Regions from separate parts of the Homo sapiens genome. Here all the other regions are linked to region 1. Evidence: fine-mapped expression QTL. A gene starts in region 1. Each other region holds a variant in brackets. All regions are shown on one strand. Distances are between the middles of the regions.

Region 1 (8,608 bases):
TTCTACCTCAGTAAAATTTCTAGGGGTCCAGTGGTGTGGGGACTGTCGAGATGTTCCTTCTAAGGTGAAGGATAAGTTGCTGCATTTGGCCCCTCCTACTACCAAGAAAGAGGCACAACACCTAACGGGCCTATTTGGATTTCGGAGGAAATACATTCCTTATTTGGGTGTGTTACTCTGTCCCATTTATCAAGTGACCCGAAAGGCTGCCAGTTTTCAGTGGCGTCCAGAACAGGAGAAGGCTCTGCAACAGGTCCAGGCTGCTATGCAAGCTGCTCTGCCACTTGGGCCATATGACCCAGCAGGTCCAATGGTGCTTGAGATAGCAGTGGCAGATACAGAGGCTGTTTGGGGCCATTGGTAGGTCTCATAGGTGAATCACAGTGGAGGCCTCTAGGATTGTGGAGCAAAGCCCTGACATATTCTCCAGATAACTACTCTCCTTTTGAGAGACAGCTTGTGGCCTGTTACTGGGCTTTGGTGGAAACTGAATGTTTGACTATGGGTCATCAAGTCATTATGTGACCTCAACTGCCTATCATGAACTGTGTGCTTTCTGACCCATCTGGCCATAAAGTGAGTCATGCACAGCAGCATTCCATCAGCAAATGGAAGTGGTATATTTGTCATAGGGCTTGAGCAGGTCCTGAAGGCGCAAGTAAGTTACATGAGGAAGTGGCTCAAATGCCCATGGTCCCCATTCCTGCCACCCTGCCTTCTGTCCCCCAGCCTGCACTGATGGCCTCATGGGGCGTTCCCTATGATCAGTTGACAGAGGAAGAGAAAATCAGGGCCTGGTTCATAGATGGTTCTACATGATATGTAGGCACCACCCGAAAGTGGATAGCTGCAGCACTACAGCCCCTTCCTAGGACATCCCTGAAGGACAGCAATGAAGGGAAATCTTCCCAATGGGCGGAACTTCGAGCAGCGCACCTGGCTGTGCACTTTGCATGGAAGGAGAAATGGCCAGATGTGCAATAATACACTGATTCATGGGCTGTAGCCACTGGTTTGGCTTAATGGCCAGGGACTTGTAAGAAGCATGATTGGAAAATTGGTGACAAAGACATTTGGGGAAGAGGTATGTGGATGGACCTCTCTGAGTGGTCAAAAACTGTGAAGATACTTATATCCCATGTGAGTGCTCACCAACGGGTGACCTCAGTGGAGGAGGATTTTAATAATCAAGGGGATAGGATGAACCATTCTGTTAACAGCACTCAGCCTCTTTCCCCAGCCACCCCTGTCATTGCCCAATGGGCCCATGAACAAAGTGGCCATGATGGCAGGGATGGAGGTTATGCATGGGATCAGCAACATGGACTTCCACTCATGAAGGCTGACCTGGCTATGGCCACCAATGAGTGCCCAATTTGCCAGCAGCAGAGACCAACACTGAGCCCGCAATATGACACCATTCCTCAGGAGATCAGCCAGCTACCTGGTGGCAGGTTGATTATATTGGACCTCTTGCATCATGGAAAGGGCAGAGGTTTGTCCTCACTGGAATAGACATTTACTCTGGATATGGGTTTGCCTATCCTGCATGCAATGTTTCTGCCAAGACTACCATCCGTGGACTCACGGAATGCCTTATCCACCATTATGGTATTCCACACAGCTTTGCCTCTGACCAAGGCATTCACTTTACCACTAAAGAAGTGTGGCAGTGGGTTCATGCTCATGGAATTCACTGGTCTTACCATGTTCCCCATCATCCTGAAGCAGCCGGGTTGACAGAACAGTGGAACGACCTTTTGAAATCACAACTACAATGCCGACTAGGTGACAATAGTTTGCAGGGCTGGGGCAAAGATTTCCAGAAGACCGTGTAGGCTCTGAATCAGCATCCAATATATGGTACTGTTTCTCCCGTAGCCAGGAATCACGGGTCCAGGAATCAAGGGGTGGAAGTGGAAGTGGCACCACTCACCATCACCCCTAGTGATCCACTAGCAACATTTTTGCTTCCTGTTTCTATGGCATTACATTCTGCTGGTCTAGAGGTCTTAGTTCCAGAGGGAGAAACGCTGCCACCAGGAGACAAAACAATTCCATTAAACTATAAGTTAAGATTGCCACCTGGACACTTTGGGCTCCTCCTACCTCTAAGTTAACAGACTAAGAAGGGAGTTACAATGTTAGCTGGGGTGACTGACCCAGACTATCAAGATGAAATCAATCAGTCTACTACTCCACAGTGGAGGTAAGAAAGAGTACACATGGAACACAGGAGATCCATTAGTTCGTCTCTTAGTATTACCCTGTGATTAAGGTCAATGGGAAACTACAACAGCCCAATCCAGGCAGGACTACAAATGGCCCAGACCCTTCAGGAATGAAGGTTTGGGTCACTCCACCAGGAAAAAAAAACCACCACCTGTTCAGGTACTTGCTGAAGGCAAAGGGAATACAGAATGGGTAGTAGAAAAAGGTAGTCATCAATACCAGCTATGAGCACATGACCAGCTGCAGAAACGAGGACTGTGATTGTCATGAGAATTTCCTCCTTCTTTTGTTAAAAACATGTTTGTGCATGCATACACTTGTACTAAGAAAATATCTTCATTTTATTTCCTTTTCCTTTATCATGTGATATGAGATTCACTGACTTCATATCAGCATTTAAGTATTGTTAACTTTATGTAATAGTATGTGAGTTGGGGACTGCATTTCCAGTTGTACAAAGGACAGTTCAGTTATGTTAGACATAATTATGACCTTATTATTGTCTTATTTGAAGATTATGAATGATCTCAGGAGATGTGTATGGGTTCAAGTTGTCAAGGGGTGGACTTGTGATGGTTAATACTGAGGGTCAACTTGATTGGATTGAAAGATGCAATATTGATCATTGTCAGGTTGTTACCCAAGGAGATTAACATTTGAGTCAGTGGGCTGGGGAAGGCAGATCCACCCTTAATTGAGTTGGCACCACCTAAACCGCTAACAGGGAATATAAAGCAGGCAGAAAAACGTGAAGAGGCAAGATAGGCCTAGCCTCCCAGCCTACATCTTTCTCTTGTGCTGGATGCTTCCTGCCCTTGAACATCGGACTCCAAGTTGTTCAGTTTTGGGACTTAGACTGGCTCTCCTTGCTCCTCAGCTTGCAGGCAGCCTATTGTAGGACCTTGTGATTGTGTAAGTTAATACTTAATAAACTCCCATTCATATGTATATATCCTATTAGTTCTGTCCCTCTAAGGGAACCCTGACTAATACAGAGGATCATTGTCTTTATCCATTATTTCAGTAGAAAATGAAAAGTGGTGATATTAAAATGATATCATTTCTTCTTTATTTATTAGTGGTACTTCTGTAAAGAGAAACTTCTCTTTATCAATTTTTTGGGTCCCAGACAGTCCAGGGAAAGCAGAGTAAATGCTTAATTCATCCCCTTTATTTACCAGTTTTCAAAATAATGAGTTGGTTTCCTAGCATTCTCTAAGAGTGACAATAATTTTTTTTAAAATCATCATCATTACAAACACCTAGATTTAAACATATTTGATATGTTTTAATATTTTGTAGTTCTAGTCCATTTAGTGCTTTAATTCTCCCATCTTTGACATGGAAAAATTTCTTTAAATTGGTTTCTGAGTCCTTTTGACATAATCCGAGTAGCTTTTGACAGTTTTTTGTTATGTTTCCTGTTTGATGTTTCTGGCTCATTTGCATGACCCATATCTGGAATCATGAATTTGGATGGACAGTATCAATGTAAACTTATGATATATTTTACCTTAAAAAAAGTCTTTTACTAGAAATAAGGTCAAACTCACAGCAGTGAGCACTCCTAGAGCCAGATCGTTATATCTAAATACCATTTCCCTCTAATAAGAACCAGAACTCAGAGCAATGGCTAACTTCAGATGTGGCCCTATTTTCTCATATGAAGCTTGAGATCTTCTTCCAAGCTCATTCCTGTTATTGGCAGAATTTGAAATTATATTGAAATTCAGTTCTATGTATGAACCCCAGATTGAAAATTCCCTAGAAAAAAAGCTGAAGGGAACCATTCACATTTTAAGTAGTCAAGTAACAAGATCAGATTTCTGTTTCAGAAATACCGCTCTGACAGCAGGTGCAAGAATGGGGTGTGTGGCGGGGATGTGGAGAGCGGCTGCACAGCTGGGAGGATGTCCAGTGAACGGGCTTAATGATAACTCAGGCTGGATATAGGGGAGGCCTAATTTAAGACAGTAGCAGTGGGGCAAATAGATGGAGGGCTGATTTGCTAGTCACTAACAGGCAGCAGCCTCAGGTCTTGGTGATGGGGGCTGATTTGCTAGTCACTAACAGGCAGCAGCAGCAGCCTCAGGTCTTGGTGATGGGGGCTAATTTGCTAGTCACTAACAGGCAGCAGTCTCAGGTCTTGGTGATGGGCGGGGTCAGGGGCGGAGGGCGGCTGTGTCACAGGGGGGCAGAGCTGCAAGCAACTCTTTTGGTGCCAGGGGCAAGCTGCGGAAAAGAGAACTCAGAGTTATGGGGGGTGTGGGGAAGATAACTCCTGGAGGAAACTCTGTCATGCCCCCAGCCCATCCTCCTACGAACTAGCCCTGGAATAATTAGGTGAATTTGAAAATGTCCTCCGTAGGCGGGAGTTCTATTCGGGGTTACCTGCGGCCTCCCCGGTCCTGGATTTCAGTCCTCTAGGTATTTCCTGAGTAGCTCTTAATAATACAGAAGCCCCTTTCCGGTGTAGGTCGGTAAGAAGCACTGCACAGAAATCTGATGCGAAGTGGGGTCTCCTAGCGGAGAGGGAGGCACCTTATAAGTAATCACTAATCCAGGTTGAGATATTAATTATTGATGTCAAGAAATCGGGCTTTTATTATATCTTTTTAAAAACTGTGTCTTGAGGCCAGGCGCTGTCGCTCACGCCTGGAATCCCAGCACTTTGGGAAGCTGAGGCGGGCGGATCATGAGGTCAGGAATTCGAGACCAGCCTGGCCAACATAGTGAAACCCCGTCTCTACTAAAAATACAAAAATTAGCCGGGCGTGGTGGCACACGCCTGTAGTCCCAGCTACTCGGGAGGCTGAGGCAGGAGAATCGCTTGAACCCGGGAGGCAGAGGTTGCGGTGAGCCGAGATCCTACTACTGCACTCCAGCCTGGGCGACAGAGCAAGACTCCGTCTCAAAAAAAGAAAAAAAATTGTGTCTTGAGTAGAATTTTAATGTGGAGAATGAGCTGTTCGGTAAATCAATTCTTCCCTTTGCAAAGCTGTAAAACATTTAAAACATTTGGCCAGGGTGACATGGGCACAGAAGGGGCAGACAGGAGGTCGGCAGCCAGGTCTGTGGAGGAGTAGCCACAGGTGCAAGAGGCCGCGTCAGCGTCCTCCCAATCAGCCTCTGCTGAGGGAGTGCCGCGCGCGGCGAGCCGCGCACTCCCCTTGCCTTTCTCCCGGCGGCTGGTACTCGCTCTTAGAGATCTGCGTTAGCTCAGAGCTAGGCTCGGTGCCGCAGAGGCACCTGAGGTTCCACGACTGCATTCCAGGCCCCGCCCCTTCATCGGGATCTGGAAGGAGGAGCGCCGTGCGCGCCCGCGCCGGCGCGAGCGCTGAAGCTCCGCCCCCAGCTTCTACCTCCGGTTCTATCCCGGCGTTTCGCCCTTCCCCACAGACCTCTGCCCCGGACCCATTTCCGAGGCGCGCCGCATGCGCCGCGCAACCCAGGCCACGAGCACGGGCGCGTGCTTAAGTCAGCGCGCGCCCGCTCCGACGCGAGGAGGCCCCGCCCTCCAGCCCCGCCCCGCTCGCTGGCCTGCCCTCCTCTTGCTACCCTCCCGGCGCAGAGAACCCCGGCTGCTCAGCGCGCTCCGCGGTCATGGAGATCCCCGGGAGCCTGTGCAAGAAAGTCAAACTGAGCAATAACGCGCAGAACTGGGTAAGCTGGGGACGAAGGCGAGACGGCGAGGAGCGGAGGGGCTGTGGGAGCAGCTCGTTCCGGAGCCGCCGCCTCTCTCCCGCCTCCTCCGCATCCATCCTTCCAGGAGCGCGGAGGTGGGTTCCGGGGCTGCGGCGCCTCCCGGCTGGGGCCGTGGGTGGTTGCGAGGCAGAGGGGCGCGGCGCAGGGTGGGGATCTCGCCCTAGCTTGGCGCAGCGTGCGGTCCGAGCCACCGTTCGTGGGAAGAACGCCCCCCCTCCCCAGCGCCTCCGCTCAGGTAAGACCCCCAGGAAAATCCTTCACCCGTGAACTGGCGCTTGCTGAAACCTCCGGGTGCTGAAACCTGCGGCTGCAGAAACAGGAGCTTCCTGCATACCTTGGAGTGGCCTGAAGATGTGCAGAGAAGGCGGAGGCGGGCGCCTTCGACGCGTTCTTGGTTTTTCTTGGCTCTGCCAGTGCGGTTGGCCCAGGTTTGGGTCCATCTCCGTGTCTTTCCATTTCTGAGTTTCAGTGTGAAAGGAGAGTACCCAACAATGTGGTCATTCATGAGTTGAGACTGCCCTGAACTGAGGTTCTTTGTGTCTCTGTGTTAAATCGGAATGTTTAACAAGTAGGAGTTTGGAAGACTCCATTCCTGGTGACAGTCAGGTATGGGACCAGTCCTTTATAACGTTTAGTAATGACTGCCAGTTGACTTTGTAAAGTGCTGTGTCCTCATAACGTTGCTTACTTCCTTAATTTCTCTGTGATGAGAAAGAGCCTTATCTTCCTTTGTAAGTGTGCAGCAGGGAAGGGCCCATCTTTGGAGTCTGGAAAGGCACTGGTTTAAGTTTAGACGGAAACGTTATTTCACAGTCCAATGGAATAATAAGGTTTAAATGCAATGTCTCCCAAAACGTTACTTGCCCTAGATGAATCAAAGAAAAAAAAAACAAGCAATTTCAGGCAAATGTTCTTTGGAAGTCATTAATTTACCACATCTGTTGTTATTGTTATCATGAGTTGTTTACTGATTCCTCTCTCCTTTTATTTAACTCTATAGATGGTAAGGAGGGGAAGGAGATTTAAAAGATGAATTAGAACAGTGGAAAGAGCGCTGGACTCCTGGCCTGGTCTCTCATCCCAGCTTTGCCATTTACTAGCTGTGTGATCTTGAGGAGAGTCACTTTACTTTTTCGAACCTCAGTTGACTTAAGGGTATAATAGTATGTACTTCACGGGATTGTTTTGATGAACAAAGAAGACAGATCATGAATTTGAATGTGCGGTGAAACCACTGCCTTGAAACTCAGACTCAGTTTCGCTTCTCTTACCTTAAGGTGTTTCACGGTTAGGGAAATAAGGTTGGCTTACTTGGGGTATTTACAGATGATTTCTGTTACATTGTCCATTTATGTACTCATTTATTTATTAACATTTGCCACATGGTGCGTATTCTATGTAGAGACTTGTGCTAGACATGGTGGTGAAAAATGTGGGACTTACTGCTTGCCTTCTGGTAGTTCATGGTTTGTGTTGGGGTTGTGACATTTGCCAAGTGGTGAATATGTCTTTGTGGTCCAGAGTGAGTGGCGTAAGACAGAAGTTTTATTGCAATTTAGAGGAGAGATTAGTTTCGCCTGGGCGTTTTGGGAGGGTTTATGGAGGATTTCAGATTTCTGAGTCAGAGGGGAACTGCATGGATAAGTGTTGGGAATAAAAATTACTATTTTTTTTACTCCAGAAACATTGACGAAACTTGTTTGACTGCCCTGGAGAGTTTTTGTTGGGAAGTGGAGGTAAGGTTCAATAGGGAGGCTGGGGCTCCGTGATGCTCTTGTGTTTGGCTGCAGAGAAGACTTGATTCTATGGGGGATTTTTGATGGGGCTAGAATTTTAAATTTTCTGATCCTTGTAAATTTTTCTCTCCCTCATGGAACACCCGTCATCTCTTCCTCTCTCATATTTAAATCATCTTAATAGGCACAAGTGTGAAGAACCCATATACCTTTAAAATTCCTATCACAGGATAAAATTGGTAATCCAGGAAGAATGTTCCGCTGAAGAAATGTAGACCCTGGTAGGACCCAGATGGGGAAGCCCTGGAGACCAGACAAGGTTATAGTAAGGTTTAAATGAATTAATAGATTTGAAGCCTGCCTGGCACATGAGCACTATTTATGTTCTTGTTAATTCATCCAGTGTGAGGGGCTGAAGGGCTGGGGTAAGGTGGCAGTGGGACTAGAGGAGTAGCTGCATTAAAAACATTTAAGGAAGAGTTGAGAGGACCGACTAGATTTAGGGGATGAAAAAGGGAGGAATGTTAGAAGATGATCCTGAAGTTTTGGTCTGGGAAGTGGGGAGAAAGGTTGTTACCTGTGTGGAAATTGGGAAGTAGGTTGGGCACGGGGGTAAGGGTGATATTAGTTAAACACAAAGGAGAGTTTAGTGTGTGCCAGGAACAGTTTGAAATGTTTTACCTATATTAGCCCATTGAGTTTTTGTTACATTTCTGAGGGTGAATATTATGAGAGACAGTGGTTAAAAGCAGGACCCTGGAGCTGACTGCCTGGGCTGAAATCTGGACTCCACTATTTATTAACTATGTAACTTTTGGTTGGTCACTTAATTTCTCTATGCCTCTATGTGCTTATCTATAAAATGAGAATGATAGCCTCACAGGGATATTGTGACAATTAGAGTTAGCTCTTACTGTTATCATCCTCTATTACAA
Region 2 (5,000 bases), 34 kb after region 1:
TCAATGGAATGTGAGACAGTTTGTTTTTTTGGGGAACTGTAGGTAGGTTGGTGTGACTGATATGAAGGATGATTGTGAGGGGAGATGGAGCTGATCAATTTGCAGAGGCTAGGTGGTGACTTCTGCACTGCTCAGAAAGGATTTTGCCCCAAAAGGAGTTAATAGTTTGAGATTATAACAGAGATTGGTATCATTGGGTTTGCATTTGAGTGAGGTCATCCTTGAAGCCTGGATTGAGACTGGTCTGGAGGTAGGAGACTAGCCAGGAGGCTTGCCGTAGCACCAGCTCCTTCAGGGAAGAGGATGTGAACTCAAGCAGCAGCAATGGGACTAGTAAAGATGGGGGCATATTTAAGGGCTCTTGAGGCTTGAGTAGCATCAGTAAGACCTGGTGCCTGCTTGATTGCTGATTTTATGGGAGAGCAGAATGAAGCATGGTGCTTTCTGAATAAAGGTTGGTATGACTGAGTTATGAAGTACAGGATAGGAGGGGAGGACATGCGTATTTCATTTTTGGTGGGTTATGTTTGAAGTGCTAGTGGAGTTAGTCTAAGTGGAGATTACCACTGGGCCATCTAGGAAATTGGTTTTAGAGTTTAGGAAAGTTGTATGGGATTGAGATCTAGATTTAGGAATCATTAACTTTATTAGTTGAAACCTAGATGAGGACGATTAGATACAGAAGAGTAATAAGATGAGAGACAGGGATAGAAACTCATTGACACTTTCCTTTAAAAGGATAGTTAGAATAGTAAGATCATAGCTTAATTGCTATTCCAGACACTAAACTTGTAAAGCTGATGAGATGATTTTAATATACTGGAAAAAGATCTATGATCATATGTAGTGAGTATTCTGAGAACCCTGAGAAAGCAAGGGGCCTCATCAGCCTGAGCATGCAGGGAAGGCTTCCTGGAGGAGGTCACCATGGAGATGTGCTGTGAGGAAGCACATTGGTTTGTCCAGAAGAGAGGGGTTGAGTGTTGCTGGTAGGGGTTGGGTTGTGGCGTGGGGAGGCCTAAGGTAGAAACAGCCTGACCAGGCAGGTATTATCAATAGAGCATCAAGTGCAAGACTGAGAATGGTGGGGCCAGGTATAGGGCTGATGCCTCACATTAAGAAACTCGGATTTTACCCCAGTAGTGGCAGAGAGTCTCTGAAGAGTTCAGTAGGATGGTCAGATTTGCATCCTTTGCCACAGTGTAGATTATGGCTTTGAGCAGATCCGAGTTAGAAGCCAGAAGACCTGTAATATGTTGAGGCCGTTCAGACAAGAGAAGTGAGGTTGAACTAGGGAATAGGGAAAGATTGCAAACTGGGTTGGTGTAATATTTAGAAGTAACATCTGAAGGACTTTGTGACTGAATTAATGTATGGGAAAGGGAAGGAACCACTCTTAGGATTGTGGGTGTGTAGTGTGGTCTTCCTTGATTTGGGAAGCATATGAGAGAATGTAAACTTGAGAGAAAAGGGACTGGATTTAGTTTTGGACATGCTTAGTTTTTGGCACCTGTGATATATCCAGGTGGACATAGGAAGAATTTGGACATGTGTGTTTAATTTCAGGACAGAGGTCAGGGTTCAAGCTTCAGTGTTGATGTATGTGTTGTAGTTTATACTGTGAAGGCACTTGAGAGAAACGCTCAAGAACTGTGTAAGGTGAGCAGTGGGCTGTGATGGGAGTGTGGGCAACTCCAGTGTTAAGGGATGGGTGAAATAGGAGGAGCCCAGGAGGAGTCTGCCTAGGAAAGATCAGGGAATAACATTATAGGCATCCATAGGCATAGCAGTGGGAAAGCAGCAAAGAGGCCTGGTATTTTAAATACTGAAAAGGACCTATGGTTAAGGGAAAGTTTTTATATGATTTGTTAGTTCATTA[T/G]GCTGAAAATTTTTTTAGAGACAAGATCTCACTCTGTCACTCAGCCTGGAGTGTAGTGACTATTCACAGGCACAATTGTAGTGTGTTACAGCCTGGAACCCCTGGGCTCAAGTGATTCTCCTGCCTCAGCCTCCCCAAGTAGCTGGGACTATAAGCGTGCTACACCACTGCCCTTAGCAGTTGTTTTGTTTTAAATGGGTGAACTTCCCTTAGCAGTTCATTTGTTTTAAATGGACTTGTACTTGTTTGTTGCTGGGGAGCAGGGAACCCAGCAAAGGGGGAATGCTGAAGATTTCAGGTGGAGTAGAGAGAATGGGTTGAACAGGTCCTGTAGGAGTTCATGAAAGGGGAGGGAATTCCTAGTATGTGAAGGTAGGAGTGGCAGGGAGAAAAGGATCATTAGTATGTAGATAAATTTGTATGACAGAGAAGAGATTTTGCTTGAAAGAGAAGAGATTGAGAGCTTATTCTTGGAGATTTGTTTTTTTTTTTTTTTTGAAACATGAAGTATGGTAATCTGGTGAGAGTGGAAGTAGGTGAGGATTGTCAGAGGGACCATAAGGAAGATGGCAAATGCTAAAATGAGCTGTGTGGAAAAAGGATGGTAGAAATTGCAGGGACCAGCTTTGAAAATATTGGCAACTGCACTTTGATTAATGGAGTATAAATGTGGAGCAAAGGGAGAATCAGGTTTTGAAGACCAGAAAGAAGAAAAGGTTGATTTACAAAGGAAACATTGTTCCAAAGGACAGAGTGGAGAGGGCTTAGAGGGAGCTGCAAGGGTGGTTACTAGAGAGTTGGGAGTTAGGAGCAGAAAAGTTAAGTTTGGGGAGTGTTAGAGAGGAGAAGTGGCTGCAGGGGGCTTGCATTTGGCAAAGAAGTAAACTAGCCTCAGGATTCTGAATGGATCTTTTTTGTGAAATTGCTTTCATGCCAGCTCAGGCTGGGTTTGAATGTGATATTAGAGAGAAGCCTGATGACACCAGCATTCAGGCTGGGCTTTGGCTCAGGATCCACGTAGAATTTGAGTGAAAAAGTTTGTGGTACATTCATTGTTTTCCTTCTGTACCTCCCCAATATCCTGGGTTAGTAGAACAGTATGCCTTTTAAAATTGTCATGAATAATAGGAATTAACCTAATAATTTCTTGGATTTTTTTTTCAGTTTATATTTAAAAACATAAATTTTGTCTATTTCCCACTAAATTGGATGAGAAGCACTTTTTACTCATCTTTAATATTAATATAGTACGTTTGTGATTTGTGTGATCACTTTTTATTTTATTTTTTTTTAAGGATCGCAACAATGCAAGGCAAATTCATGAAGGTGCAAGTTTACCGTTTTTTGAAGTATTTGTTGATGCTCCTCTGCATGTTTGTGAACAGAGGGATGTCAAAGGACTCTACAAAAAAGCCCGGGCAGGAGAAATTAAAGGTCAGTAATATTTTCTTCCCAGTTTCACTTTGCTTAGATATTTTATGTTCCCATATCTAGGATTGATATTTTCTAAGAGATTGGAAGTGTTAGAGTGACTTGGAGCTCCTTGAGGAGAGAATGTAGTCTTATTACACTGTTCTATCTCTCAGGCATAGCAGCAGTGCCTGGTGCTGGACTAAATGAGTCTTGTTGATCCTTTTGGAATCCTGTTCACTAGCCAGAGTTGGGGCTCGGGAGTTGGCGAAAACCTACTTGATAAAATTAGGTGCCTAACATTAAGTTGGACATCAGTTGCCTGCTGCCACCAATTCTACTTTCTTTGTTCCAGGGAAAATGGAGGAAATCCCATAGCTATTGGAAAAAATGCCTGAATTATAAGCATCTTGATGATAAGGATAATGCCTTGTACTTTATTACGATCCTTGGAATGGTCCCTTATTCATTTCATGTACTATTGTTGAATTAGATTGAATTAACATATCACTGATTCTGTTAAAATATATACAGCTGACCCTCCACATCTGTGCATTCCACATGTGTGGTTTCAACCAACCGTGAATTGCATATATTCCAGAAGAAACAGTATAAAATAATACAGCAATTTAAAAATAGTATAAATAACAAATATAGTATAACATCTATTTATATAACATTTACATTGTACTAGGTATTATAAGTAATCTAGAGATGATTTAAAGTATATAAAAGAATGAACATAGGTTATATGCAAATAGTACACCATTTTATGTAAGGGACTTGCACATCCTCACATTTTGGTGTTCACAGGGAGTCCGGGAACAAATCCGCATGATTACCAAGGGACAGCTCTACACCTTGCTTTTTAGGTTTTATGGTCCGCTTCCCAGAGTTTCAACTGTGATGGACATTTAGACATTGAGGGAGAAATTTAGAACCCAACTCTGCTCTGGCCTTTGATATTAATCATACTATTTATCTTGTAGACATCCCTTGACTTGTCCTGTTCCATTATTGTTAACAGAAACAAAGGACTTGCTGGCAAAAACAAAACAAAAACAAAACGAAACAAAACAAACAAAAAAACTAACTAAAGATACCATTGTTTAGGGATCAGTGAGTCATGCAGGTAACTTTTAAGTTTGCCTTCCCAGCAGGGAATGTGATAACCTGAGACTGTCACAGAAACTCCCAGGAGCTCTCTCAGAGATAGATTTTGGCATTCAGTTTCTGGCCCTGAAAACAAAAAGATACAGTGGGAAGGAAAATGGTAGTTATTCTGGGTTCTTCTGTATTTGAACCTGGGAATGCTTTGGCAATTAGGTCAGGTTCCATCTGCTGTAGTAGCATTAGTTCCATGGGCAAGGCTGACCTCCGGTAATGCCACTATGGAGAATCAGCTCCTTGATGGGGACTGCTGCCTGTCAACCCTCTACCTCATTAAGCTGTTACTTTCTTGACTCAGAAAGATCAGGCTGCTTAACCAGAATAATTATGACAATTGGAGGAAAACCTGTTTAGCCCTTCAGCTCCCATATTACTCTCTCAATGGCCAGTTTTCACTTCAGTCTTTGTGTAGAAATTTGGCACAGAAAAGCAAAATGGTGTGTCCAGGATCCTAAATAAAGTCTAAACCTTTTACTTACTTTAATTTTAGTTGATTTTGTTGTTTTTGAAAGAATGGATTGGTGAGGGAGGAAGGTTTGTC
Region 3 (8,775 bases), 29 kb before region 1:
AGTCAACTATCCAAATAATTTTGACCCAATTTTATTATTAGGATCTAGTGTCTGCACTGGTAAACTCATCTAACGATTGCTCAGTTTTCTCTTTTACACCATGCTATACTTGTGGTAAATTTCAGTACATAAATTTGTCTTTCCAATATAAATATTTTAATACTCCTCTTTCATTTGTAGAGTATGTACATTAACTTCTTTGATAGCAACGGTAAATTTCTTCTCTGCAAATCTTGGTCCTCTTTGTTATCTCTGGTACAGTTATGGTCACTGTTACAAGCTGATCTGTGTCTCTGCCAGATTTATATGTTGAAGTCTTAATCCTCCAGTACCTCAAAATGTGACTGTATTTGGAGACAGCGTTTTTAAAGAGGTAATTAGAGTGAGTCCTAATCCAATATGACTAGCGTCCCTATAAGAAGTGGAAATTTGGACACAGATGGCTGCAGAGGGAAAACCATGTGAGGACACAGGGAGAACATGGCCACCTGGACAAGGAGAGGGGCCTCAGAAGAAACCAACCCTGAAGACTCCTTGATCTCTAACTTCTAGCCTCCATACCTATGAGAAAATAAATTTCTGTTGTTTAAGCCACTTACTCTGTGGTAGTTTGTAATGGCAGCCCTAGAAATTTGATACAGTCACTGTTTCAATTAGGGTCTTTGTTTACAAATTAAGATTCTTGCTAGTTTAAGCAGAAAAAGGATATTTCTTAAGGAATATTAGATAGCTCAGAGAGTCTTTGGAGGGTTAAAGAGTTGGGTTTGGAGGCTATGCAGTCAGAAACAATGCTCTAACCACATTGTGAGATTGTGGCAGTAAAGGCTCTGATGCAACTGGACACTAAAGCATACACCACTCACTCTGGATATGAAACATCAGGAATTCTGTCATTCTGACCTTGAGAGATGACATCTCAGCAGCTACCTATGCCAAAATGTGGATTTCCTTCAGCTCCTGCCTTGCCATGTAGCTCATTTCTGGGATGATGTCTCACATGGGTGTGTGTGATTGGGGTAGCCTAGGTTATATGCCTGTAGCTTCGCCGCAAGTGAGTGTGGCAAAGTGAGCTTTCTGGCTTCTACCATGTGGAGGTGGATTAAAAGGCAGAAAGTTGCCTAGATGTGGAAAGGGTGCTCAAAAGGTGATGCTAGGTCAGAAAAGGCAAAGGAAATCAACTGTAAAACTTCAGTAGTATGATTTTTTGGCCAGTTGCTCTTTGCTACTGTCCCTGAGAGCTAGTTATCTTTTCCACAGTCCTTAAACTTTTCTTGAATCTACTTTTTTTTTAACTGAATAAACTCTCCCTTCTCTAGAATTCAAATAACTATCAAGTACAAATAACTGAATCTTCCCACCCCATCCTATTGTATACCCTTCTAAGAAAGAAATTAAGCAGGTTAATATGAAGGTGCTATTTGTCAAGTATTTATCCCTCCCAATATTGGTAGAAGAACTTCCAACTTTCCTTAGTGAATTATTCCATTTTCCATCTTTTCTTATCATTTGTGTGGGAATAACATCTCCTACTGTGCAGCCCCTCCCCAAGTTCCAGAAGACCTGTGGCTTAGTCTGGCCAGTCAGAACATTCCATACACTGCCCTCACCCCAGCCTTGTGATAAGTTCTAGAATAGGTGGGTTTATTGTCAAGGACAGAAAGATAAGATGCAGTCCCTGGACACCTCCTAGCATGACAGACCTGCATCTCTCTGGTTCCTGTCTTTCTGCTGAAGTTTTTAGTCTAGGATGGCAGCCTGGAACAGCTGCGGGCCAAACTGATATTCCTCATTAAAAACTTTTTCCAGAGTAAAGCTGACACAGATGGACGGAGAGCTGAGGGATTCATAGAAACAATCCTCATGTCTTCTGAGCATTCAAACCAGCTGTGTTAGAAGTTTGTACTACATCTAAACTTTTCAGTTCTTTATGCCTATAAAGACACTTTCGTCTTAATTGCATTTGAATTGTTTCACTCACTTGTGACCAAAGGAGTCCTGACTAGTTTGATTGGTTAAAGAGTAATCAGTGCAGATTTTCCCCCCAAATTCTGTTTTAACAGACATCTATAGTATCTCTACCTTGATGTCCAAGTGAAAAAATAACTTGGTCTTATTTTTATACAAGTATGTACATAAGTATGTATTGTGTATACCTATACCCCCATACTCCTCCATGCATAGACACAAAGTAAAAATGGAATTAACATATCAAAGATTTTATCCATCTTGGGTTCTTTCTCTTTAGATAAAATATCATTTTTTTAGGATTTGATGAGAGGTAAAACATATTTGCATATGTTTTTCTGTAGTTTTTGCTTTATCTAGGTTTACTCCTGTCATGGTTAATTTTACTGTCAACTTGACCAGGCTAAGAGATGCCCACATAGCTGGTAAGACATTATTTCTCAGTGTGTCTGTGAGGAAGTTTCTGGAAGAGATTAGCATTTGAATTGGTGGACTGGGAAAAAGAAGACACACCTTCACCCATGTGGGTGGGCATTGTCTAATCCTTACAGAGCTCAGTAAAACAAAAAGATGGAGGAAGGATTAATTCACTCCCTCTCTCTCTACTTCTTCTTTTCCCCCCAGAGAAGGTCAGGTCTCCCTCTCTCTCTCAGGTTGGAAGGCAGTGGCATGATCATGGCTCACCACAGCTTCAACCTGTAGTGATCTTCCTGCCTCAGCCTCCTGAGTAGCTGGGACCATAGGCATATGCCACCACATCCAGCTAATTTTATTTTTTGTAGAGCTCGAGGTCTTGCTATATTGGTCTTGAACTCCTGGCCTCAAGCAACCCTCCCACCTTGGCCTCCCAAAGTGCTGGAATTACAGATGTGAGCCACTGTGCCTGTCCTCACTCTCTCTTCTTGAGCTAGTGGATTCATCTTGTCCTGCCTTTGGACATCAGAGCTTCCAGTTATTGGGCCTCCAGACTCAGAACTTACACTAATGGTCTATCCTGGTTTTCAGGCTTTCAAACTTGATTGGGAGTTTCACTGTCAGCTCTCCCAGTTCCCAAGCCTTTGGATTAAGGCTAAATATTTACACCAAGGGCTTTTGTAACTTTCCAGTTTGCAGAGGGCAGATTGTATACACACATTATGTCCAACAAATCACAAAGTTAACGTAAAAAAAACTAGAAGAAAGGAAAACATTGTGGAGCATCACAGAGAAACTTTCTGTTCTTCAAACCAGTGAGTCACCGTACTCATATCTATAGTTTCTTCAGGGTACTCTTTCATGTCTCAGTCAGTTTATTATTTATGCAGAAACACAACTAGAGAGCAGTTTCTTGATCTATTCAGGTATAGTACCTTTAATGAAATAATTACTTCTAAGTAAATTTAGATTGAATTATAGTGATCTGTTTCCTTTAATACAACGGTTGCTCTTAAGATTAGCATAGTAGAATCTAATTTATGATTAGAAGGTAAAGGAAAGTTAACACTAGGCACTGTATGCTAACCAATGAGGTAACATAGAGTACTACTGTTGCTTGATAGAAATAAATTCTTATAGGAACCAGAGAGATGCCAGTCTGCCTGAATTATAATACTTCCATTAAATATGTGTTATACTCCAGCATTTGTCCTGGAATTGTCAGATGAAAGACAGATCAAAAGGTCAAAACTGAAGAATTGAAGCCAACATGTTAAAAAGAAACACAAAACAAAGTAGACAACCCTATGATAGCCTCCAAACACTTGGTTGAAAGAAATAGGAAAAAAATGCCCTCTTTCTTCCAGTTTTTCCTTAAACAACATTATTAACTTTGTGCTTTATTGGACATAATGTTATTTAGTGCATCTTTTTGTATTCTCTTGAAATGTGTTACTGTAATTCCAAAATGAAAACTTAGTCTTAAATATTTAAATTCTTATTAAACAACTCTGCTTAGTCATTTGCATATACTAAAACATCTGTATGAAATAATTTGTGTAAATATCAGAAAGTCATGCCTAGTAATGTTAACCAAGAAGAATGCAGCTTTAATGTAAGGACAGAAGAACTGTGATTTAGGATCCTGTGCATCTTATGCTACTAGGCTGCTCAGCCTAGAAAAGGGTGAGTTCTAAAATGGGGAAGATTCTCACCATTATAACATAGTAATGCAACATCTGGGCTTCTGAGTGGCTTGCTTGAAATGAATGTGTGGGTTTTTTTTCAGGACTCTGCATCACAAAAACGCAGGATATTATAACCTACTCGGTATTTTGGACATCGAAGGAGAAAAGGACTAGAAGTTATGGGAAGGTTGAGCAAAAGAGAAGGAGAAAGGAAGAGGATGAGGAGGAGAAGGAGAAGAGAAGAGGAGGAAGAGGAGGAGGAGAAGGAGAAGGAGTACTGTGTTTCACTAGTGCATTTTACCTTCTGCACGGTAAATAATTAGTACCCCCAAGCTTATAAATAACAGGAT[G/A]GTGTCCTCTGACTAAAATTAGGGCTAGTTTTTATGTTAGGAATTTATAATTTCCTAATTGCTATTGAGATTTCTTGCAGCATAAACAAACAGATGTGCTTTTAATTAGATTAGCCTCTTATAAACAAATGCGTGTCTCAAGTTCAATCCAATTTTTTCTTAGTTTCTTATTGTATGCAAGCATTTTAATTTGTTTACTGCAAGAAATATGTACAATTAAATTGGTTTCTCTGTGATTAAATATTTTATAACTTTTATTTGATTTTTAATTTTTACTGATAAAGAGGTACAAAAGTAAATGAATGAAAATTATTATAATAAACCATGAAATTATTTAAGTCTCTATAAATAAATGATATTTAAAGTATTTCCTCTAAAATGGGTCATTTCTGAAATAGACATATGTGTTTATAAATGTAATCTTGGTGCAATACATTGTTTATGTAGTAATTTTTCCAGAATAGTTAATATTTTTTTAACTATTGCTGCCTAATAAACTACTTCAAAACTTAGTGGCTTAAAACAACAAGCATTTTATCATCTCACACAATTTTGTGCATTGGGCATTTGGCTTGGACATACAGAGAGGGCTCATCTTGGATTTGCTTGATAGCTACTGGGACTGGGACATCCAAGAAGGCTTCTTTACTCCCATGTCTGTCACTTCATCTAGGATGGCATGAATGATGGCATCTGGCTAATGCTCAACAGGGTCATATATCTGGGACTTCGGTTCTTCCTGCAGGGTGGGTTCCTTGGTCTTTTCCAAATAGTCTGAGAACCTCTTTTTCTCCATGTGGCCTCTTCATGCAGTTTTTCCAGCAAGGTAGCCACACTTCTTAAGAGGCTGTGAAGCTTGAGTCTGGAACTGGCATACAGTCACTTCTACCGCATTCTGTTGGCTAAGTAAGTCGTCACAAGTTCAGCCTGGATTCAAAGTAGGTGAGGACTACATAGGAGTATGAATACCAGGATATGTGGTTCATCAGGGGTAGGGGGTAACTGTGGAGACTAGCTACAATACATGTGTCCTTTGACAGTGTGATTTCCTGGATCTTCAACTGTATACTTAAGTGTCTCTCAAGATGTATGTTTTGTGTAATATGAGGCTTAAGAAATGTTTTTCAGAAAAAGAGCACTCGTATTATAAATTTGAGAGATAGTACAATCTATAGCCCTTCACTTGGGCTCACTGGCATGTTAAAAGTGGTAAGAGTTTTGCAGCATAAAAATCTGTTTAATTTGTGTAACACAGCGTTCCTCAGATATTTAAGAGTATAGAACTGTGCCTGGAACTTAGTAATCATTCATAAATATTTGTGGAATGAAATTTATCAGAAGATCCTTTTTCACAAAATGCACACTGCATTCCCAATGAAGTGGTGTTTCCACTGAAGGAACTTTGGGAACACTGGTCTATTATGGAAAAGAGTAGTATGTGATTCATTTTCTTCCTGACCCATGGCTTCTATCTGGGTGTTTCCTAGTGAATTGGTTGTTGCACTTTAAATGACATGATCCCATCTCCTGGTCCCAGGTGACAAGACCCAACTGAGCACCTGACCCAAAGGCAGCCATTCGTAGCTCAGCCAGCAATGATAAGGAAGCCTAGCACAAAATCTTTCTAAAAGGGGGAAGATTCTCACCATTATCAAATAGTATTGCAACATCTGGGTTTCTGAGTGGCTTGCTTGAAATTAATGTGTGGGTTTTTGAGGACTCTACATCACAAAAACTCAGGATACTGTGACCTACTCAGTGTTTTGGAGCCCCCAAAGAGAAAAGGACTAGAGGTTATAGGAAGGCTGAGCAAAAGGGATGGAGAAAGAAAGAGGATGAGGAGGAGAAGGAGAAAACATGAGTAGCTTAAATTGGATTGTGATAGGCAGATCAAATTATATCTTCTCTTTTGAGTAGTTTGAATTTGAGAAAATCAGTCAATTAGTTGGTAGGGGTAAGACAAATAGCAGCAGAAGCTAAGAGTAACTGAGTTTCCATTATATGCAGTCCTAGGGTGCTCTGCCTATTTTCTGGTTGTGTGGCTGCTGAAAACACCTCCTTTCCCCTTTTCTTCCCTCCATCTTTAGAATAAAACTCCATTAACTGACACAACCTGTCTCAATTTCTTATTATGGGAAAGAGTCTAACTGTACGTAACATCAGGAAAAGAGTATATGCACTCTTGTTCAGAGTGAGAAAACACTCCTTCAGTTGTTTAGCTCGGGGAGAAGTGCCACTACTACATGTCCCTTCACCAATGTGCAAGCCCAGTGGGGACTTCTATTGGGAAACCCAACTACAAGTCATGCTGGTAAACCAGCTGGTTAGGCAGCTTTTTCAACTGCTGGAGGAAATGCTTTTGTCAATAGCTGCAGAAAATAAAAATTGCTCTAGGTGAGAATGTTTCTTTAAAGGATCTCTGAAATATATGCTGAAAATTATAGTTTTGAGCATGTTATTTCCCCTGGATGACTATCGGAAAATAATGAGAAAAGTAATTATTTAATTAACTTAAATAGAAGAAGGAGGCAATGAGTGGAAAGAGAGAGCACATGGACACCCATGAAGCTGGAACTGTGCCAATGTTAACTAATTACCAAAACAGAGCTATCTAGGGAACAATGGAAAACCAGGAGATAGGTTCTGCTGGCATGCTCCCTAGTCTGAGTATACGGTGAAGTCAAAATGCAACCACTCTCTAGGATATTTATTAGAAAGAGGGAGCAGGTAATATCACCCAGATAATTCATTTTAAGTCCACAGAAGTGAGAAGAAGCAATAGAATACTGATATAACACCATGTCAATCACTGGTAAGGCGGCATTAACGAAGTTGAGATGCCAGAGGTAAACAGAATTTGCCAGCTGTTGTTGTTTGAAAAGGTTCAGTGGATGTTGAGCATTTGAGGATTTAACATGAGACAGAAGCATATTTGCATTGGGCTGCCAGGATTCTTTTTTAAAAAAATAGTCTTTTTTGGGGCAATTTTAGATTTGTAGAAAAATGAAGCAGACAGTACAGAATTAATACATACCCCCAAACCCAATTTTTCCAATTGTTAACATCTTACCTTAGTATGGTACATTTGTTATACTTAATGAACTAATATTGATGCGTTATTGTTAACAAAGATCAAGTTTGTCAAGATTTCCTTAGCTTTACCTACATTTTCTGTTTCGGGATCCCATCTAGAACACGACATTATGTTTATTTGTCATATCTCATTAGTCTCCTCTTGGCTATGACAGTTTCTTAGCCTTTCTTTATTTTTGATGACCTTAACTGATTTGAGGAGTACTGTCCAGGTATTTTGTTGTATCCCACTGTTGGAATTTATCTATCTGCTATTTTTCTCATATCTCAACTGGGGTTATAGGTTTTGGAGAGAAAGATTACAAAGGTGCAGTGTCATTTCATCACATCGTGTCAAAGCTACATACTATCAACGTGATTTATTACTGTTGATTTTGATCATATTGTTGAGTGAGTGTTCGCCAGGTTTCTTCACAATAGAGTTACTCTTTTTCACTTGGTTTCTATTATGTATTATTTGGAAGGAGATATGCACAGCCCGTATTTAAGAAGTAAGGATTTATGTTTCTTTCCTTGAGAGCAGAGTATCTATATAAATTAGTTGGAATTTTTCTGCATGGGATATTAGTCTCTTCCATTTATTAATTTATTTAGTTGTTTATATCAGTATGGACTCACTTTATTTTATACTTGTGGTAATCCTGTATTACTTTATTTTTATTGCTCAAATTGTTTCATCTTTGACCATTGGGAGCTCTTTCAGTTGGCGCCTGTGCTCCTTTCACAGGCTCATACAATTATGGTAGTATTTTGTTTGTTTGTTTTTGTACTTCCTTACTTTCTGACACTACAACATGCCCCAGGCTCGTCTTGTATGTTTTCTGTCCTAGTTCTAGAATCAGCCATTTCTCCAAGGAACCCTGGTTCCTTTTGTTGGAAATGGTATTAAAAGCCACTGTGGCTTCTAACTGATATTTTATTAGAAACACCAAGATCTGGGCATTAGGTGTACTTGTTGCTACTGGGGTGTCATTGCTTTTGAGCTGTCTCAGCTGATAAAGAAATATATGTGCATATAATAATTCCATATGTACACATATGTAAAAATATTTCTAGACGAAATCATCTGTGTATTAAGCTAAACATGAATTCCTACCAACATCTTTAACTCAGATCCATTAGCATATGAATCATCCTAGCCCTACCTCCTTGCTCAACTATCAATTCCCACCCCAACAGTGAGAAACTTGGCTCCCACCATCTGCCATCCATTTAATTAATTGTTCAATTCTATTACACATGTATAGCAGCTTGGGAATGTTAAC
Region 4 (8,775 bases), 130 kb after region 1:
GAACATGTGGTGTTTGGTTTTCTGTTCTTGTGATAGTTTGCTGAGAATGATGGTTTCCAGCTTCATCCATGTCCCTGCAAAGGACATGAGCTCATCCTTTTTTTGGCTGCATAGTATTCCATTGTGTATATGTGCCACATTTTCTTAATCCAGTCTATCATTGATGAACATTTGGGTTGGTTCCAAGTCTTTGCTATTGTGAATAGTGCCGCAATAAACATACGTGTGCATGTGTCTTTATAGTAGCATGATTTATAATCCTTTGGGTATATATACCCAGTAATGGGATTGCCAGGTCAAATGGTAATTCTACTTCTAGATCCTTGAGGAATCGCCACACTGTCTGCCATAATGGTTGAACTAATTTACACTCCCACCAACAGTGTAAAAGCATTCCTATTTCTCCACATCCTAAGAGGAGTAGGTTTCTAAGGATAACAATATCATAATGAAACAAGAATAATAAATAATTGAACATCTTCTGTATGCCAGGTTCTGTATTAAGTGCTTTCTACAACTTACCTCATTTTCTTCTTGCAATAAACTTATGACACAGTTAGAATTCCCACTTCATAGATAGGAAGGCTAAAGCTTGGAGAGATTAGGGGAATTATACAAGATCATGAAGTTAGTAAAAGACAAAATCAGAGCTGAAGTCAAGCTCAGGAATCCTGCAAAGTTGACCTACAGGAAAACCTCCAGGGGCACTTCTTTTGCTCTTCTCTGGAGGTCCTCCTTCTAATTGCTGTATCAATATTGTCACAATGTGGGATACTCCCTACATGCACCAGGAGCATACACTGATGCAACCTTACCGCTGAGTGTAGGCTGCTCTGAGTGGACCCTAGTTCATATGTATTTTCTGATTCTGATAATATGCTTGGAGTTGAGGCCACTTCGTAATCCAGATTTGCAGTGTTTTCTGAGGTGTTATCTGAAGACCTCCTGAATCAGAATTACTTCTGATGCTTGATAAAAGTATAAATCCCTGGACCCAATGAATCAGAATCTCTGGAGAAGTGCCCTGGGGATTCGTATTTGTAAGAAGCCCATGCTTGATCACCTGGTGGCAGAGTTCCACAAGCAAGAGCAGAAGCAGGCAAAGAGTCTAGTGGGCCAGGTTTGAAACGGGCACTGTGGTGCTTCTGCCATGCTCTGTTGGCCAAAGCAAGGCACAAGACTACCCCAGATTCAAGGGAAGTGGAAGTAATTTCTCTCTTCGAAAGGAGCTGCAAAGTCACATTGCAAAGGATAGAAGGAAGGAGATATTTTATGGTCATTTGCTTTATTACAACTGGGAATCACACCAAGCAGTGGGCTTGACAGTGCCCCACTCCACTCATTCATTTACAACATCCTATCCTGATGTATTGCCCTCTTTCTGATACAGACTGTGTGGGTGCACTTAGTTTTACAAAAATTAAATAAAAGAGTAGATGTTGCAATGAGATGGGAAGAGATTGTGAAAATCTTTATTACCATAAAATTTTCTCTGCATTTATCATGGCAAAGTACTGAATAATTAACTTAGAGATGTATAATTTGCATCTTTTTAAAATGAAAAGACAAGTGTTCCAGATTTTCTGTTCTTTTCTGTGATGACAAGTGTCTGTCAATAGTATGCTACCCACCAGACCTTTTTTGAAAATATAAACACACTTAATTCATCCCCTAAGTTTAAAGTAATGTTTTAACAATGAATGTAAAAGTAATTGCTTTTCAAAAGAAACTCCTGCTATGAACAAAGCATTTTAAAATTGGATGTTTGGAAATGTTTCCATTGTTCCATGATTTTACTGCCAAACAATGTGTATGTGTCCCATACAAATTTTCTTATATCTAAACTTAAAAAATTGACAAGTAAATTTTTTGTCTATTTAAAAACATATTTCAAATAAAGAGTTACAGTGGGTTTTCAAACTGTTTGATAATACAAGTTTAGTATCCCTTATTTGAAATGCATGGGAATAGAAGTGTTCTGGATTTTGGATTTTGGAATACATGCATACACTTAATGAGATATCTTGGAGATGGGATCCAAGTCTAAACACGAAATTCATTTATGATTATATACATCTGCACACATAGCCTGAAGGTAATTTTATCCAATATTTTACATACTTTTGTGCATAAACCAAGTTTGTATACATTGTACTATCAGAAAGCAAAAGTGTCACAATCTCAGCCACCCATGTAAATAGTCTATGCTGTTTGGCATCACCATCATTCCTGACTCTGAATTTATGTGCTACTAAAAAGCAATCATTTTCTTATGCTTGTTCACACGCAAGTACTTAACAGTAAAAAGTATGAGATACCATGAGTGCAGTGAAAAAATAATGTGTTCAGGGTAACTAAGCAGCACAGTAGCATCACCAGAAAACCTGTATCAACTGTTAAACATCAGCAACCACCAACAGCAGCAGGCTTTCGGTCTCCACCGATGATGTTGTGTTTTGACTAAAAGCTTAGTGCAAACTGTATTTTATTTTTTTATCAGAAGCAGTTAAGAGACCAGGAAGTGGTAGGTTGTCTAGGGATAAGGAGCCATTCTTCTGGATGGCTTTTCTTCTTTTTGAGACAGAGTCTTATTCTGTCGCCAGGCTGGAGTTCAATGGTGTGATCTCGGCTCACTGCAACCTCTGCCTCCTGGGTTCAAGATATTCTCCTATCTCAGCCTCCCGAGTAGCCGAAACTACAGGCACCTGACACTACACCCGGCTAATTTTTGCATTTTCAGTAGAGACAGGGTTTCACCATGTTGTCCAGGCTGGTCTCGAACTCCTGGCCTCAGGTGATCCAATTGCCTTGGCCTCCCAAAATGCTGGGATTACAGTTGTGAGCCACCACTCCTGGCCTGATGGATGGCTTTTTAAAATGTTTCCTCCAGAGTCTTCTGATTCATTAACAATGATATTTGTCTTCAAAGTCTCTCTTTGATTTTATAAATAGACATGACTCTTGTTCTGTTATTAATGCACACTGCTCTAGTCTTTCAATAACCCCATCACATTTTCACCGCATTGTCCACAGGCACTTTTTCTTCAGTGTTAACAACTTCATCTTCATTGTCACTTTTATCCTGATCATCCTGATTCAGAACCATTTCAGCTATTTTACCATTGATCAATGAATGAACAACTGGAGACTCTATCAATGTTAAAAACTTCTTCAATATCCACTTCTTCTAGCTTACTGATGAACACTGAAGGTATATCTTTTTGAATATGTAAGGAGGTCAGACATCATTTTTTCTCACTTGATATATAGAATCCTTCAAAGTCACCAACTTTTTTATCATCCTCACTGAACAGAGTCACAGACCAGAGGTTGTGCCAGGCATGCACAGCTATGTATTAATCACTGTGTTCCAAGGGTTGGTAACAACATATCCAGCAGCCATCATGCTAAACTCCTTTTGAAATCTTCCACATCCATGCCTCTTTTCACTGCTGTAGCATGCTGTTCAGTAGAGTGTTTTTATATTTACTGTTCATTGATCTAAGGATACCCTGGTCACAATTAATGAAGTCACATTTTGGGGGAAAGTACAGGGCATAAGCATTTTTGATGAGAACTTCAGCTGGAGGATGAGCAGAACAGTTGTCAAGGAATAACAAAATCTTGCAGTCATCACCCAGTCTAGCTTCCCTGCTCTGAGCATAAGATGCTGGTGCAAAATGTTTGTGAAAGCAAACGGAAAAGATGACCCTGGTGATCTATGCCTTTTTGTCAGCATAATAATGGACTGGTAAGAAATTCATTCCTTGGAAACAGAAAGGACACAGCTTTTCCCTATCACATCAGGTTTACTTATGCATGCCTGCAGCATTAGCACAGCCCAGCACAGATGGGACTTGGGTCCCATCTCCAAGATATCTTGCATACACAGAGTAGTGTATGCAAATATTCTTCTGTCCTTGGCCTCCTTGATTCCTGTAGGGGCTGTCTCATCATCTGCAGTCAGTGACTTTCTGGCTCAATAAGGCCAAAACAGTGATGTTTCATCAGCATTATAGACTTGTTCTGGTGTCAAATTTTCCTTGGTGATGACCTTGGCAAACTTGTCAATGAATTTCTCTGTTGTTTCATGTTCAGCAGATGCTTTATCACTACAAATATTTAAAAAATTTAATGCAACATTTTTTCTTAAATTTCTACAACCAGCCTGTTGAATATTCACAATTCTCTTCAGTTCATCGTGATAGATCTTTGCTTGTTTTATGATCAGCATATCATTATATGCATGTGTTTAATGCAATACTGGTGGATCCATTCTTTCAATACATAATCAATATTTTCATTTTTAGCTTTGCACAGTGTTTTTCTATTTTCATTAATTTTTGTTCATCACTTTAGGCATAGAACTTCAGCAGTTTATTTGTCTGTTGCTTCACGTCATAAATACTGGACATTCCAACACTGTGCTCTTCTGTAAGACATTTTACAGTTACACCGCTGTCCCCTTTCTCCAACAGTTTATCTTTCTGTGCTATAGATAAACATAAATGCTTCCTGTTTCACTTGTACACCGCTGTCCAGTTTCTCCAACAGTGTATCTTTCTGTGCTATAGATAAACATAAATGCTTCCTCTTTCACTTGTTACCATGATCATAGGGTATCTGCAGGCCTTTTTGACATGTCCAACAGTATCTTTACATCAGAGAGCAAAGAATAAGCAAAAAAACAGTGAGTAATGCAC[A/T]TAGGTCCTGGTCCATGTGGGTCATTGCAGGGAATCTGCCATTGGTGCATTCACCCTGCACAAGTGGCATTTTATTACCCTTTGCAGGCATGCTTGCATGGGGAAGTGTGGGCATGCATGGAAAAAAATATGTTGCAGCTGAAGAGGGCTGAGAGGGTCTTTTTTTCTTGGGGACACTGAGTAAACTGTGCTGTGCACTTACATTTCCACTGTGACCCATCACATTAAGTCAGGTGTGGAATTTTCCACTTATGACATCATGTCCAGTGCTTAAAAAGTTTTGAACTTTGTAGATTTTTAGATTAGGGATATTTAATCTACAGTAAGAAAATACAATATTTTCTGATTTATTTATAAGACAACAGACTGATATCATAGAGATAAAAATTTACGAGATGTATTTTAACAAAAATATTGAAAATTGGTGAATGCAAGTAAAAAAATAAACTTCAGGGTTTACAACCAATAACGTAGTTTTTCCATGTGGATATAAATATATGTATAATAAACTTTTTTCAGATGATAGCCATTAAAACTCAGTGATATAACAAAGTGCTGAACTAAGCTTTAGAATATAACAAGGTATTATATGTTACTTTGTGTTTACCTAAACCATTAATATTAATGTTAATTTTTTAGGATAAACATAATATTTGAGAAACAATACATACAAATTGAATTTATTTAAAAATATGGATTTTATAGGTTGAGTATCCCTAATGTAAAACTACAAAATCTGAAATGCCCTGAAATCCAAAACTTTTTGAGTGCAAACATCATGCTACAAGTAGAAAATTCCACACCTGATCTCATGTGAGGTGTTGCAGTCAAAACAGTTAAAACTTTGTTTCATGCACAAAATGATTTAAACTATTGCATAAAATTACCTTCAGGCTATGTGTACAAGGTTGCTATAAAACATAAATGAATTTGGTGTTTAGGCTTGGGTCTCATCCTCAAGATTTGCATATATGTATGCAAATGTTACAAAATCTGAAAAAAATCTAAAATTCAAAACACTTCTATTTTGAGCATTTTGGATAAAGTGTACTCAAACTGTATCTTTATCTCATCCTTTAAATTTTCTATTAAAAGATAATTAGGACTATTAGTACAATTGGCACATGTATAAAAATAAATGATCACACTCATTAGGTTGGTTATTATTTAAAAAAAACAAAATAACAAGTGTTGGTGAAGATGTGGAGAAATTAAAACCTTAGTGCATAGCTCATGGGAATGTAACATGGAGCAGCAGTTGTAGAAAATAGTACAGTGGTTCCTCAAAAAGCTAAACTTAGAATTACCAAAATTCAATTTCTCAGTATGTACCTGAAAAAATTGAAAGCAGGAACTCAAAGAGATTCTTTTGCACCAATGTTCATAGCAGCATTATTCACAGTAGCCTAAAGGTGGTATCGAAAGACAAAATTACAATAAATTTAGTTTAAATATCTTAATTAGCTTTGATTCACAATTCTGGAATTGGGCAGCCCTCAGAACCAGAATAGATTCTAAGAACTCTGGGACCCCAAAGTGGTCAGATAACATTTATGGATGGAGAACAGATGTAATGCACAGTCAGCTTAGTTGGTTACAGCTCAGTGTTTTGCCTTATTTGAATGAGTGGGCCACCTGCAATTGACTGAAGCTCAGCTGCTGTGATTGACTAGAACTCAGCCAGTTGTTAGAAGAGTTTATGTACTCCTAAATTAAGCTTTCAATTAGTAGTCTGTCTACCAATGTTGCAGTTTGCCACATAAGGACTCAAGTATAGAGGCAACCTCAGGCCTAAACTTAATTTAACTTAAAAGTAGAAATACCCAAACGCTCACCGATACATGAATGAATAAAGTTTGGTATAAACATGCAGTGGAATATTAATTTGTCTTAAAAAGGAATGAAATTTGGATACATGCCACCATATGTATGAAATTTGTGAACAGTACGGTAAGTGAAGTAAGCCCATCACAGAAAGACAAATATTGTATGGTTTCACTTATATGAGGTACCTAGAGTAAGCAAATGCATAGAGACAGAAAGTAGAATGCTGGTTTCCAGGGTCTTGGGGAAGGGGAGAATGGGGATTTATTGCTTTATAGTTTTTGGTACCCAGAATGTGGGACCTGAGGAAGGGTGAGTAAAATGGAGACCCAAAACCTTTTACTTTTGCTTCTGAGCCTTTTGGTCCTATGACATTCCTCTTATTTTTTTTCAGGAGAGTAATGGCACCTATCTTTCCTTTTACAATACTGGAGGTGGTCCACACCCGTCCCAGCAGCCACAGGTGGGTGCATGCATGGGATGGTTGGGTGGGACAGCTCCCTGTTCCCCCTTCCCTGCTGCCTGGGGTGCATGGCCATGTCTGCCACATGTGTGTGCAGTGTTCAACAGCTACTCAGGGCAGCAATAAGCCACAACTGCTGCCAGGGCCTTAAGGCACCCCACACGGCTGGCTGGCATTCCCTGCCATGCACCATGGAGTCTCCCAGTCCTTGGCCAGGGAGTCTCCCAGTCCTTGGCCAGGGAGTCCAGCTTTGTCCCCAGCAATTAAGCTTTTCTCCCTGGTGGAGGAATATTTACATAAGAATAAGAAGGTAAGGCCTGGGGACATATGGAACTAGCCACACCCTTAATTATGCTGGAAGGGGTCAAGCCTTGGCTGCATGTAGCATATAATCAAAACAACGTACCAGGTTTTACATTAAAGTTAAAAATTGCTAAAAGTTACCATTATGACATATAATTGAGACTACGGGAAATAGATTTACATGCAAGGTGTGTGAGAACAGTAAAATGTGTTTTTAATAAAAGGTTATAAGAAGGCTTAAAAGTGTAAATTCTTGCCTAGGGTTAAATAATTGTTTTAAATTAAGTAGGATGAAGTTAAAAGTTCAAACAAGTGATGGGAGGATTGTAAAAGTTAATCTTGCAAAAATTCCATGTGTGAACATACTGACTAAATTCAAAGGGTATTATATAGTTTTTCTGTAAATTGAGCATTAAAATAAGCACACAAGGTACTCTTAAGGCACTCAACTGCTCTTTACCAAAATTTGTAAAGGGTTATAAAAGGTTTTTGCTTTTTTAAAGTTTCTGAGTCATAATTTTGGTAAAATAAATAATTTATGTAATCTGGAATTCTGTTTCATAACATCAAATGTTTTAAACCTCTAACATATTTAACAGGCTTCTTAAAATCAAACTTCAGTTTCAAAATTGTCTTTCCTGACACCTGACTTTTCAGATGCTTCAGAAGGGCCCCTGGAGTACACAGAAAAGAGATAAACAAGATTATTTGACATGTTTCATTACATGGGATTGCCAAAATGGTGTTCAGTCTTCTTTAGGCTATATTTTGTTGAATAATACTAATATGTGTTCCAAAATTGTCTGGGGTTTCTAAAATTCTAATATCTGAGTATATGCTATCAATCATAATTGAAGTTGTTATGTTAAGTTTTTGTAAACCACAGAGATAACTAAACTTCTTTATTAATTTTGTTTCTAACTGTAACTACCCTGGACATTTTGTTATTCATAGACAATTGTCTTGTTTTAATCCTTTTCAAAATATTGTTTATAATAAGCTATAGAACTCTGAAGTTCTATAAGTTATAGCTAAGTGTGTTTAAATACAGGTTTCTGATAACTATGTAAATTGTGATATTTGAGTACAGGAAAAATGTACAGGACTCATGAAGAGCTGAATATTTATGAATATCAAGCAAAACAAGAACTAAATTGACTGAACTCAGAAAACTGAAACAATCTTTTGACTTTTGCTTGGAATATTGCTGATCCTTGTTTTGTTTTTCAGAGTCAAGAAAACTTATTTTGAACTATTTATAGCCTTTCATAATTGAGTAAGGTATACTCCTGTGAAGAAAATTTGGAGCATGTTGGTTTCTCTCTACCTGGTTCCTCTAGAATTTGGAAACTATCTGCGAATACTCTCAACCTGTGGCGATATAGTTGTTTGCATCAGTGCAATAAAATCAATTTTCTTTTGCAACAGAACACAATTGGAGAAACTGGTTGTTTTACCAAGGCTTTGACTGAAAGGATATGC

Alleles and levels. Positions count from the first base shown, and alleles are read on the strand shown. Sizes are in standard deviations (SD) of each study's normalised expression. Not every link is listed here.
For the expression in regulatory T cells of the gene that starts at base 5,781 in region 1, allele G in region 3 goes with a lower level than allele A (moderate effect, 0.63 SD a copy in Bossini-Castillo 2019).

What was found. PIP is the estimated chance that this variant, and not a neighbour inherited with it, causes the effect.
Region 2: its variant is the best candidate, but not a certain one, in a credible set for the expression of PAPSS1 in whole blood (TOPMed, PIP 0.85).
Region 3: its variant is the best candidate, but not a certain one, in a credible set for the expression of PAPSS1 in regulatory T cells (Bossini-Castillo 2019, PIP 0.87).
Region 4: its variant is the best candidate, but not a certain one, in a credible set for the expression of PAPSS1 in unexposed skin (GTEx, PIP 0.62).

What each region holds. Positions count from the first base shown.
Region 1 is chr4:107,717,407-107,726,014 of GRCh38, reverse strand. PAPSS1 (3'-phosphoadenosine 5'-phosphosulfate synthase 1) reads left to right here and starts at 5,781. Exons shown (of 12, transcript NM_005443.5): 1 at 5,781-5,895. The coding sequence starts at 5,836. RefSeq lists enhancers at 4,329-4,478, 6,469-6,528 and a silencer at 5,589-5,838.
Region 2 is chr4:107,685,352-107,690,351 of GRCh38, reverse strand. It overlaps PAPSS1 (3'-phosphoadenosine 5'-phosphosulfate synthase 1), which reads left to right. Exons shown (of 12, transcript NM_005443.5): 4 at 3,175-3,313. Among named protein-coding and RNA genes, the nearest start is that of PAPSS1, 32 kb to the left of the region's middle. The variant T/G (reference allele first, on the strand shown) is at 1,880.
Region 3 is chr4:107,746,210-107,754,984 of GRCh38, reverse strand. No RefSeq gene overlaps it. Among named protein-coding and RNA genes, the nearest start is that of PAPSS1, 30 kb to the right of the region's middle. The variant G/A (reference allele first, on the strand shown) is at 4,418.
Region 4 is chr4:107,588,544-107,597,318 of GRCh38, reverse strand. It overlaps LOC105377358 (a long non-coding RNA gene), which reads left to right and starts at 6,922. Exons shown (of 3, transcript XR_939059.3): 1 at 6,922-6,990. The variant A/T (reference allele first, on the strand shown) is at 4,704.